Homo sapiens: one gene and its partners. The protein of the gene in region 3 purifies or fractionates together with the protein of the main gene of each other region. This does not show direct contact. Each region holds a gene or a part of one and is shown on either strand. Other genes may lie near its edges.

Region 1 (3,655 bases), on a different chromosome or scaffold from region 3:
CAGCGTATTTTTTACACTGCAAGTCTGAATTTTTTTTTTTTTTTTTTTGAGACAGAGTCTCACTCTGTCACCCAGGCTGTGGTGCAGCGGCGCAACTCGGCTCACTGCAACCTCTGCCTCCTGGGTTCGAGCAATCCTCGTGCCTCAGACTCAAGAGTAGCTGGGACTCAGGCATGTGCCACCATGCCACTACTTTTAGTAGACACAGAGTTTTGCCATGTTGGCCAAGCTGGTCTTGAACTCTTCACCTCCCAAAGTACTGGGATTACAGGTGTGAGCCACCATGCCCAGACTGAATTTTTTTTCTTTTAATTTATAGGGAGTTACCCATCACAGAAACCACTATTAATCACAACACCCCCAATTCCCTGACCATGTCAGACAAAGCCCACTCTTAGTATGCAAGGGCCTTGTCCAGGTCATCTTTCCATCCCCCACAGCTCAGCGTCTTATCCATCATAGTAGCTTTCTAAATGTCCAAATAAATGCAAAACATAAAATAGCCTAGAAAACAACATAACTGAATATAACTAGATTAAGTTCAATAGAGAAGTTTTTTTAATAAGTGTTATTTTCATAACCCGCATTAAGATCCAGCCTGTGAAATTCTACTAGAACACTTCTAAAAGCCAAAATGTAAAACCAAGTCAAGACACCATTACATGTTTGAAATTACAAGTTACCGCTTCAAATTTCTCTCTGTTCTCTCGAAGATAGTGAATACAGGCCATTCTGACTTCAACATGGCGAGACTGAGAGTGCAATACCTAAAAAGAAAAGGCAACAAACACACTATTAAGCATTTAGTTAAAAGTTACAACCTAATGTCTTCTTTTACACCCAAAATAATCTGACAACCAATAGATTATCAGTCTTTCTCCATTTCCCTTTCTATAATTTCGATATCTTTACTCATTCCTACCTCTTCTTCTAACTAAGCACAGCGAAGACATGACATATACAAACAATACTACTTCTTAAGCCAAATTTGTAAAGAATTTATTAGCCTTTCTCCTTTAGGACATTTTTGTAAATTTAGGACACTCTCTTCCCTTGGCCTTCCCTCCACAATAACTTTACTCTTCACAAAGAAGAGCTAACAAAATCCATGCTACGCCACGCTCAACTTCATCCTATACATATTGAAAAAGACAAACTGGCAACTTCTGTAGGAATGTATTTTGAGGCTTTCAGCCTGTAAGAGGCCGATTTATTTTTCCCATTAATTCTGAATCCACTTAGAGGCTCTGTGTAAAAATTTAAGTCCACTATGGTTTCAGAAAAATTAAGGCACTCATTCTTTCCTTGGTGATCAAGCTTATAAGACAAGAAAGAACATCCAAGTAGGCAGCATAGGGGGTGCAAAAATGTTGTGTGGTATCATCCCAAGAGGTTTGGGGTTTGTTTTTATGCCCTAAATTGTAAAGTACCAACCTACAAAGTATGATCCAGATCCTCTCACTCTGCAGTTTACATTTTCTTCTATTAAACAACCAGTTCAACAAAAAGATAACTTACTGGCATGTGGTCTTTTACCAAAATTCTAAAGCTGTGAATTGAAACAACTATTTCTTTTTTTTTTTTTGAGACGGAGTCCTGCTCTGTCACCCAGGCTAGAGTGCAGTGGCGCAAGCTTGGCTCTCTGCAACCTTCACCTCCCAGGTTCAAGCGATCTTCCTGCCTCAGCCTCCTGAGTAGCTGGGATTACAGCCAACTACCACGGCGCTTGGCTAATTTTTGTATTTTTAGTAGAGACAGGGTTTCACCATCTTGGCCAGGCTGGTCTCAAACTCCTGACCTCGTGATCCGCCCACCTCGACCTCCCAATGTGCTGGGATTACAACAGGCATGAGCCACTGTGCCCAGCCTGAAACAACTATTTCTTATCCAATGCTTCCTTCTAGCTAGCTCCCAATTCTTTTTTCCCCCACCAGGCTGGAGTGCAGTGGTGCAATCTCAGCTCACCGCAACCTCCGCCTCACAAGTTCAAGCGATTCTCCTGCCTCAGCCTCCCGAGTAGCCGGATTACAGGAGCTGCCATGTCCGGCTAATTTTTCTTTCTTTCTTTTTTTTTTTTCCGGCTCATTTTTCTATTTTTAGTAGAGACAGGGTTTCACCATGTTGGGCAGGGTGGTCTCAAACTCCTGACCTCAGGTGATCTGCCCGCCTGGGCCTCTCAAAGTGCTGGGATTACAGACATGAGCCACCACGCCCGGCCCTAGCTCCCAATTATTTAACATGCTTAAAGGAGATTAAAATTCTTTTCTATTACTGGGTATCTCAAATAAAGATATTCCTGTACCGTAAAGGGTTATGGTTTAAAAAAAAAAAACTCAGACACACTTAAAGTAACACATTTCAAACTACCATCAAGGCCTCTTGAGAATTTATATTAATAGAAAGTATCTTTAAAAGTTACAGATCCTGGCCGGGCACTGTGGCTCACGCCTGTAATCCCAGCACTTTGGGAGGCCGAGGAGGGTGGGTCCCCTGAGGTCAGGAGTTTGAGACTAGCCTGGTCAACATGGTGAAAACCCCATCTCTACTAAAAAATACAAAAAAAAAAAAAAAATTAGCCAGGTGTGGTGGTGCGTGCCTGTAGTCCCAGCTACCTGGGAGGCTGAGGCAGGAGAATGGCTTGAAACCAGGAGGCAGAGGTTGCAGTGAGCCGAGATCGTGCCAGGGCACTCCAGCCTGAGTGACAGAGTAAGACTCTGTCTCAAAAAAAAAAAGTTACAGATCCAATTGAGTGGTTCTCCCTTTACGTTTAGCATGAGTAGAGCATTTGGGAAAAGGGAGGCTCCAGCTGTGCATTCTACAGCTCTCTTGGATCACAACCAAGGCTCATTTATACCCACAGAACCGGCACAACTGCCTGGACGCCTAGTATGTCCTATTACGCTGAGATACACTGAAAATGCACCTGTTGAGGTTAGCAATTAGTTTGTTTTCAGTGTAATAACTGGTTTTCAGTTTAACTGATTCTACCTTCACTGCTGTTCTTGGACACTATTAAACTATATTCTTATATATTCTAAGAGTATGTGACCAAAAAGGACTATCTATATATAAAAATAACCACCGTAGAATTTTTTTGCCAATTCAACAAATGACATTTAGCAACACTTCTTTCACAGAAGCTATGTTAGACACTATCATGAATCAAGGTATTACTCGTATGAATAAACCACAGTGTCATCTGATAGGGCTTTCCTCTGCCATTAGCAACGTGGAGCTAGTCTTAAAGCCATTTACCTAGCAACAGGTGGCAAACATAAGTTAGTAAAGCTTATTTTCAATCAAAAGCAATGGTAGGCATATCTACTGGTTCTTCTCTTTTAACAAAGATTTTGGCACATACAATCTATCTGAACCTGTTGCTCAGAAGCAAAACTCTTAGCAACTTCTATAAAGTGTGAGAGTGCTGGTAATTCACAAAGTCAAGCACTGCAAGAAAAGCAAGGTTAAATGACAACTGTCTAAAATGTAAATTATTGTGCAAGGTTGATAACACTTCGAAAGAATTAAAGTAGTATGACAAATATCTCTGCAAATTAATATATACATGAAAGCAAACTAGAAGGCTTTCCCATTTTTACTTGGGACAAGATAGTGATAAATACTGGGAAAGGCTGAGACACTGTTTTAGCAAGTC
Region 2 (3,655 bases), on a different chromosome or scaffold from region 3:
TCCTGGATTATTTTAAAATAAATTCTAGACATCATATTATTTCATTTGTAAATATTTCAGTACGTATCTCTGAAAGACACATACTTTTTGAAAGGCAATTATAATGCCATTATCACAGCTTAAAAGTTTTTTCCAACAATAATTCCTTAATATCATCAAATATCTAGGTCGATACTCAAATTTCCCAACTGCCCCATAATTTGGGACTCAAATAAGGGCTATACAATATGATTGATTTGTCTTTAAGTATCTTTTAATCTATAGGTTGTCTCTCCATTCTTTTTTATCTCTTACAATGTATTTGTTGAAGAATCCAGTTGGTTTGTTCTGTAGTGTCAACCTCTATGGATTTTGCCTGTTGTATCCCTGTGTTATCATTAAGCATGTTCCTCTGTTCCCTGTATTGCCTATAAATTGGTCATCAGTTCTAGAGGTTTAATTAGATTCAGCTCCAATTTTTTTTGGCAAGGCTATTTCCTAGGCAGTATTGATTTCTTCCATTAGGAAATGCAAACTATCTAGTCGGCTTCTTTTTGTAATGTTAGTAGCCCTTGATGATCATTGTCTAGATCCACTATTTCCTAGAGGCTGCAAGATGGTGACATTCTAATTCTATCATTCCTTCTTCATTGAAATAACCTGAATACCTCTTTAAACAAAAACTTCCTCATCAGCTCTCAGATTGCCCAGGTAAGAAATTCATAAAGAAAACACAGAATAAATGGTGATTCTTTCCCTTAACAGTTGTCAGAATAAAAACCTGATTTCCTAGCATTCTCTCATGCTGACCAATGAGATTTCCTCAGAAGTAACATTAGAAACTCATAAATTTAAATGTATTTAATGGGTTTCAATTCTTGGAAGTTGTTGCCCTAATTGATGCTCAAATTGTCCTATCTTTGGCCAGTGGGAGTCTCTTCAAGTTCGTTCCCAAGTCCTTTCAGTGTGACCCTACTGTCTTTAGGAGCTTCCATGTTTTCTAATAAGAGGATGTTCTGGGTTTATCTTGTACCTCTGCTGCCCCTGACTTGGTACCAGCCATTTCTCAAAGAAGCCTGTACATTTCAATGGAAAATAACATATTATTATTGGGTTGGTCATTTTTCCTAGGCCCTTTCAAAGAACACAGCAGGGAATATTTTTGTTTTATTTTAGATAAAATACAATGTGATCCTTGCAATTCAGATGAAGGAATACAGAGTTTTTCTTAAACTGTCATTAATCTTACATCTGTGTATCCTTTTTGCTATGCTGAAAATCCGTTAGCAACATCACCGACCTAATTACTCATTTGCTCTAAACCACAATACACATGCAACAATCTCAGAATTAGCAATACCTACATTTCCCTAACAAGGGCATGATTTAAAACAATTTACCCTTTTTTGGCCATTTCTTTTTGTCCATATATATATATGGACAAAATATATATATATATATATATATATATGGACAAAATATATATATATATATATATATGGACAAAATATATATATATATATATGGACAAAATATATATATATATATATGGACAAAATATATATATATATATATGGACAAAATATATATATATATGGACAAAATATATATATATATGGACAAAATATATATATATATGGACAAAATATATATATATATATATATATATATATATATATATATATATATGTCTTTCATACATATCCATATTCTACTATGGATGTTCAGTCAAATTGCTGAGTTTTAAACTTGGAATATTTCCTCTCTGTGTGGTTAGGCCAATTACCAGGGTACAATTAAGTTCATTTGATTCATTCTGCTTTTAATTTTTAGGGATTGCTTTTTACTTCAATTTTTAACCATGTCAAGGTTTACATCAGTTCAAAGTCAAATCCACAAAACAAGGTATAATTTTCTAAAAAGTCTATCTTCCATCTATGTTCATTATACCCTATTTCTCTCCTTCCACCTAGAGAAAGGATCTTTACTCTTCATAGAATAAAACTAAATTTTACTTTGCAACTCATCTTTCAACTTTTTATCTGAAATTGAGAAAAACAAGTGTCTGCATGTATGTGTGTGTACACATACACTCTCACCCTTTCCTAGAAAACTGAGGATATATTATCTACATTTTCTCACTTTGCTTTTTTTTTCACTTAAATTACTTCATAATAGCATATAGAGATATTCCCCATTTCTTTCTACAGCTGCATAATATTCTGTTTGTGGCTAGACCAAAGCTTATTCAACTCTTTCCCTATTGATGGAAATAAGGGCTATTTTCAATCTTATGCTACTATCAATTGTGCTAAAATGAACAGACTTGTACATATGTATTTCTATGTACATATATATTTAAATAACTTACAATGTTATAGCTACATAAAACAGTCTTTATATGTGGTATTACAAGATGTTATCTGGACTTACCATGTCAGTAATGTAGATAATATCACCTTCCTCAAAGTATAATTCATCTGGCTAGAAGAAAAAAAAAAGTTTGACTCCATGTGATTTTTCATGAATTAGAATATGATTATATAGATTCAAAATTCTATCATATTCTAATAAGCAATGTGGTTTTATACACTTAAATCAGCACATAAGCCATATAATAAAACACTACTGAAAAATTAACACATGAATAGACGGCTAGATTTTTTTCCCATGATGAACTTCAAAGAATTACATATATAAAGATTCTCCACACACATCTTGCATTCTTCTACAACCAAAGCAAGACATTTGTATATCAAAATAGAGTATTAATAAAACTTCTTCCTTGTAGAAATTCTAAAAGGTGGTATACATTTTTTCATAAAAATATAAATGTCTAGAATTAGAGTCATGAAAAACAGCCAGAAGCTTGATTTTCTCTTAAACAAGGCCTCAATCCTTGAACACTTTAAGATCAACATCTGCTATCTGCTCATTTTAAGAAAATCATTATCCTAGCTCTTCATGTTCAGGGAGAATGAACATTTTCTGTATGAGAAAAGTTAATATGTAATTCAACCATTAATAAGGCTAAAGAGCTAAAAGATATGAAGCAGTAACTCAGCCAGTCCAGAAACCCCAAGCAGCTCTAAGGAGTTGGCTAATTACACAGACCATATGTGCTCTGGCCTGTACCAACCAAATGTTCTAAAAACTTTCTGAGGCCAGGTGCGGTGGCTCATGCCTGTAATCCCAGCACTTTGGGAGACCAAGGCAGGTGGTTCACAAGGCCAGCAGTTCAAGACCAGCCTGGCCAAGATGGTGAAACCCCATCTCTACTAAAAATACAAAAATTAGCTGGGCATGGTGGGGGATGCCTGTAATCATAGCTACTCGGGAGGCTGAGGCAGAGAATTTCTTGAACCCGGGAGGCAGAGGTTGCGGTGAGCTGAGATCACGCCACTGCACTCCAGCCTGGGTGACAGAGCGAGACTCCGTCTCAAAAAACAAAACAAAACAAACAAACAAACAAAAACAACCAAAAAACACTTTCTGAATAAAGATACACATTTTAAACATCTTTTGACCATCAGTAGATAACACTTACCATGACTTTGTAAGTAAGTAGGGTGATGCCTACCGAGAGCAAATTTCAGGTGTTAGGAAATGTTTACATCATCATGGTGGATGAAAAATGTAGGACACAAATTTCACATGTGATAAGAACACAACTATG
Region 3 (3,655 bases):
GCGGGGGGTGGGGGCGATGCTGGATTCCAGCAGATGGAAACGATTCTACAAAAAGAAGCCTGGAGCTTTGAATAGAGCTGTAACGTAAATAAAATATCGTGTCAGTGTTAGTTTCCTGGCTTTGGTAACTGTGCTGTGCTTAGCAGCAGACCGGGGCGTTTTCATCTCCCTATTCTTTCCCTCCTTCCTCTCCTCAGTCCTCCGCTCATTCCCACCCTCCTGTGGCATGAAGCGCGTGTGCTCAGCTCGCCCTCCTTCACCTCCTCCCTTCTCGCCTACTTCATCACGGAGGGAGCTTTCGAACCGGCTCCTGGGACCTCCTCCCCGCCCCGCGGACACAGCACAGACTGCAGCGCCTCTCCTCTCCGCGAAGCTGCACCAACTTTATTTGCAAAAAGAGGCTCCAAGCGCACGGAGAGGATGGGGGCTGCAAGGTCCCCACCCTCCTCCCGGCCTCCCGCGGCCCCTGCCCTCCTCCAGGCCCCCCACGGCCCCCGCCCCGCCGGCTACACGATCCCGAACTGGCAGATGTAGGGCAGCTGATCGCGGCAGCGCTTGTCGAACCACTTGCCGTTGGCCGCGCCTGACAGGACCGCGCAGTTCTCGGTCTTGCCGCCATCGGGTTGCGCGGTGATCTCAGTCTCCCAGTTCTTGTAGGCGATGCGGGCGCCGGTCATGTCCACCCAGGTGCCCTCGGCCGCCATGTCGTTGAGGCCCAGCCAGATCTCGGCCTCGTTGCCCACGCTCTGGCGCAGGTACTCATACAGGGCGTCGTTCTCCGAGCCAGTCTGAGGGGTGCCCAGGGTGCCCCCGCGCGAGATGCAGTCCTCGCTGGCCTCGTGGAAGGTCTTCGTCTGGGTGAAGGCCAGAAAGCATTTCATGTGCACCTTGGTCCCCTTCAGGCAGACTGGGAGTGGGGAGAAATGGCTGTCACCGAAGGTCCCCCTGTTCCCCAGGCAAAGAGCCAACCGCCCAGGCCAAGCCCACCGTCCTCCATCCCATCCCGTTTATCCCATCAGTCCTGACAGCCCCTTAGACCCAGGCAAAAGGGGTCCTGATGGTTCATGCACTTTGAGGACCTGGCTGTGGTGGCCACTAATGTACAGATCCAGATCCCCACTCAGGAGGTCTTGGTGCTCCCGCGGCTGGGAGAAAAGGCAGCCCTTGTGCTACAGAAGCACCCAGCCCCAGCTGACACCCCTTCCCAGGCCTCCACCTCAGTCATTTCTGGCCTTTACCCACCCCATCTCCTTGGGTCACAGAGGCTGGCCTGGTGCCTGCACTGCAGCTCAGCTCTCCCTCTGCCCACTTCCTCTTCCCCCCGCCCCCACATGTGTGGCTCCTAGGGCTCACCCTAACAAATTAGCTCTGTCTCAGAGTCAGCTTCCCAGGGAGCCCAGCCACAGCCACCTGCTCTGGTTCTCCTTCCTCCATGCCCCTCCCTAAGATCAAGCAGCTTGCAGGGCCAGGGCACCTGCCCACCTACAGCCTAGGCCACACTTCATGTACCCAGGGCCCCAAATCCCTACCCAAACAGCCCAAGCAAGCTTCCAGGGCCTGCCAAGTGCCTTTTGCAGGGTCAGTTCTCCTGAGGGCTGGTAGGGTGGGGCTGAGTGGATAGAGCTGAGACTGCAAGAGAGAAGACAGGAAGTGCTGGGCACAGGCTGTGGTCAGAGGCCGGCGATCAGGCAAGGGACTCTGAGGTGTCCACAAATTCTCAGTTTGAGCCTGGCCCCAAAGGTTGTGATGAAGGCACATATTTGGTCAAGTTAGGAGGATAAAATCTATTTTTGTTTTGCAGTTTGCATTTTCAGCTTGATTTCTAGCTGAAATATCTAGACATACTCTGATTTCTCCTGAGATCGTATAAATCGTTCACCTTTTACTAAAGATTTCTGTGGAAAGGAATATCTTGACAGACAGGTGTATGTCTGCATTTGTCCTCTTGCTGGTGACCCCACCACTTTGGGGGATGTCTGCACTCCCCTCTATCCATTCCCACTCAGTTACTTCCATTTCACTCAACAAATATCAATGGACAGCATCCCAGTGTCCCCATGGGCATCTGACACCACAACCGACTTTAAACATGGGGCCTGAAGCATTACAGAGGTGTCTACCCACAGACTCTGCCCCAAGTCAGCTGTCCTACCTCGTGCTATCCTACAGCTTAGCCAAGCGGCCTTCATTGCCTTTCCTTCCTGCTGGTAACACTGACGTGCTACCTAGACTTTTGTTGGGGATGAAGGATTCACTGCCCTGGCTGCCAGGAATGCTGCAGGAAGAAAGTCCTCAGCTTTCAGCCTCCTGCAGGGACTGCCTCAGCAGAAGACAGCCATCTCTTCCAAGGCCGTGCCCCTCCCTAGAGCAGCCTACACCCAAGACTGACCCATAAGCCCTCTTGCCCCGACTCAGGACAGTGCCGAAGGGTCATCCCGTCATCAGGGCTCCTGAAGTCAGCTGAGGCTTTCGTGGCACCACAGTACAGCTCGACTTCTCCTTCTGCCCACTCCTGCTTCCTTCCATCCCTTCCCTAGCACAGGGGTTGATCCTGAGGGTATCTCCTGATAAGTCTCCTGTGGGTTAAACTCCATCTCAGAGTTGCTTCCTAGGACCCTCACCTGAACCTCCCTCCAACACATAGGTAGTCCTCAGTCAATGCTACTTCTCGTGATACTATCATTGCTGCCAACATTTTGTTGCTCTGGTCTATTCATGATCCTGTCGATTTATGCTAGTCCTCCACACCTCTGCTCCTGCCCTGCCATCTGCTTGGAATCAACCCTCTTTATCTTCTCTGATTCCTACACAGCTTTCAAGGGCTCAAGTGATTCCATGAATATATTGAGGTTCCCAGGGAGCAGGGCCCTGGCTGCATCACCTCTGCCTCCTTGTGCCTGGCAGAGATGTACCAGGTGGGAACCTCCCATGTGTATGCTGGTTGGAGGAGGGAAAGGTTGCCCCCTGATTCCTTCAACTCTGGTTAGGTCAACAGAGCTCTGCAATGCTTTGGGTGGGTTTATTGAAAAGGTGATCTTTGGGTTGTGAGGACAATGAACAGGAGAAGGCCCCAAGAAGCCCAGCAGCTTCCTAGAAATCAGCAGACATGGGGGCTTTCATATGTCATGCTTTGGGCCTCCATATGTCATGAACTTTTTTCAGGGAGGTCCCCACCTCATTACCTCACCCCAGGTGGCAGTTGATGCCTGGGTTACATTGACTTTGCACAGCACAGAGCTTAGACATGAGAGAGACCTTAGAGTTTACCCTGCCTACCTTACAGATGAGGAAACTGAGGCTCAGAGTGGCACTGGGCTCATTCTAAACATACCCGCTGTGCCAGGCACTGTTGCCTCCAAATCCCTTCTCTCTTGTCCACCTCCACTATAGAGGCTGGAAAAGCTACATTCTTGCATTCTCAGATGTTCTTAAAGCTGCAGGTGGCCATATGATAGATTTCTTGTCAATGAGATGGAAGTGGAAGACTACGTTCCCTATAAATGAGACAGATGTGGTTGGGCTACTCTTCCTCCTTCTTGCCTTGAATGCACTCATGATGCCTGGAGTTGGGGCAGCCATCTGAAGACCATGAGGTGAAACTTCTGAACAAAAACTTATAACTACCTACTTGCAGACTTACTTTTTGTTTAAGCCA

The links.
Region 1: the proteins of CLEC3B (region 3) and OTUD4 purify together in Homo sapiens (affinity purification with mass spectrometry; one large-scale study listed by BioGRID and IntAct). This does not show direct contact.
Region 2: the proteins of CLEC3B (region 3) and OSTF1 purify together in Homo sapiens (affinity purification with mass spectrometry; one large-scale study listed by BioGRID and IntAct). This does not show direct contact.

The regions. Positions count from the first base shown.
Region 1 is NC_000004.12:145,173,978-145,177,632, forward strand, and holds part of OTUD4 (OTU domain-containing protein 4), read right to left. Parts: intron 768-3,655; coding exon 684-767; coding exon of another isoform or gene 663-683; intron 1-662.
Region 2 is NC_000009.12:75,126,377-75,130,031, reverse strand, and holds part of OSTF1 (osteoclast-stimulating factor 1), read right to left. Parts: intron 3,556-3,655; exon of another isoform or gene 3,530-3,555; coding exon of another isoform or gene 3,527-3,529; intron 2,464-3,526; coding exon 2,413-2,463; intron 1-2,412.
Region 3 is NC_000003.12:45,032,776-45,036,430, reverse strand, and holds the end of CLEC3B (tetranectin), read right to left. Parts: intron 908-3,655; coding exon 507-907; 3' UTR 360-506; downstream 1-359. UniProt on the Homo sapiens protein: Tetranectin binds to plasminogen and to isolated kringle 4. May be involved in the packaging of molecules destined for exocytosis. Plays a role in retinal function.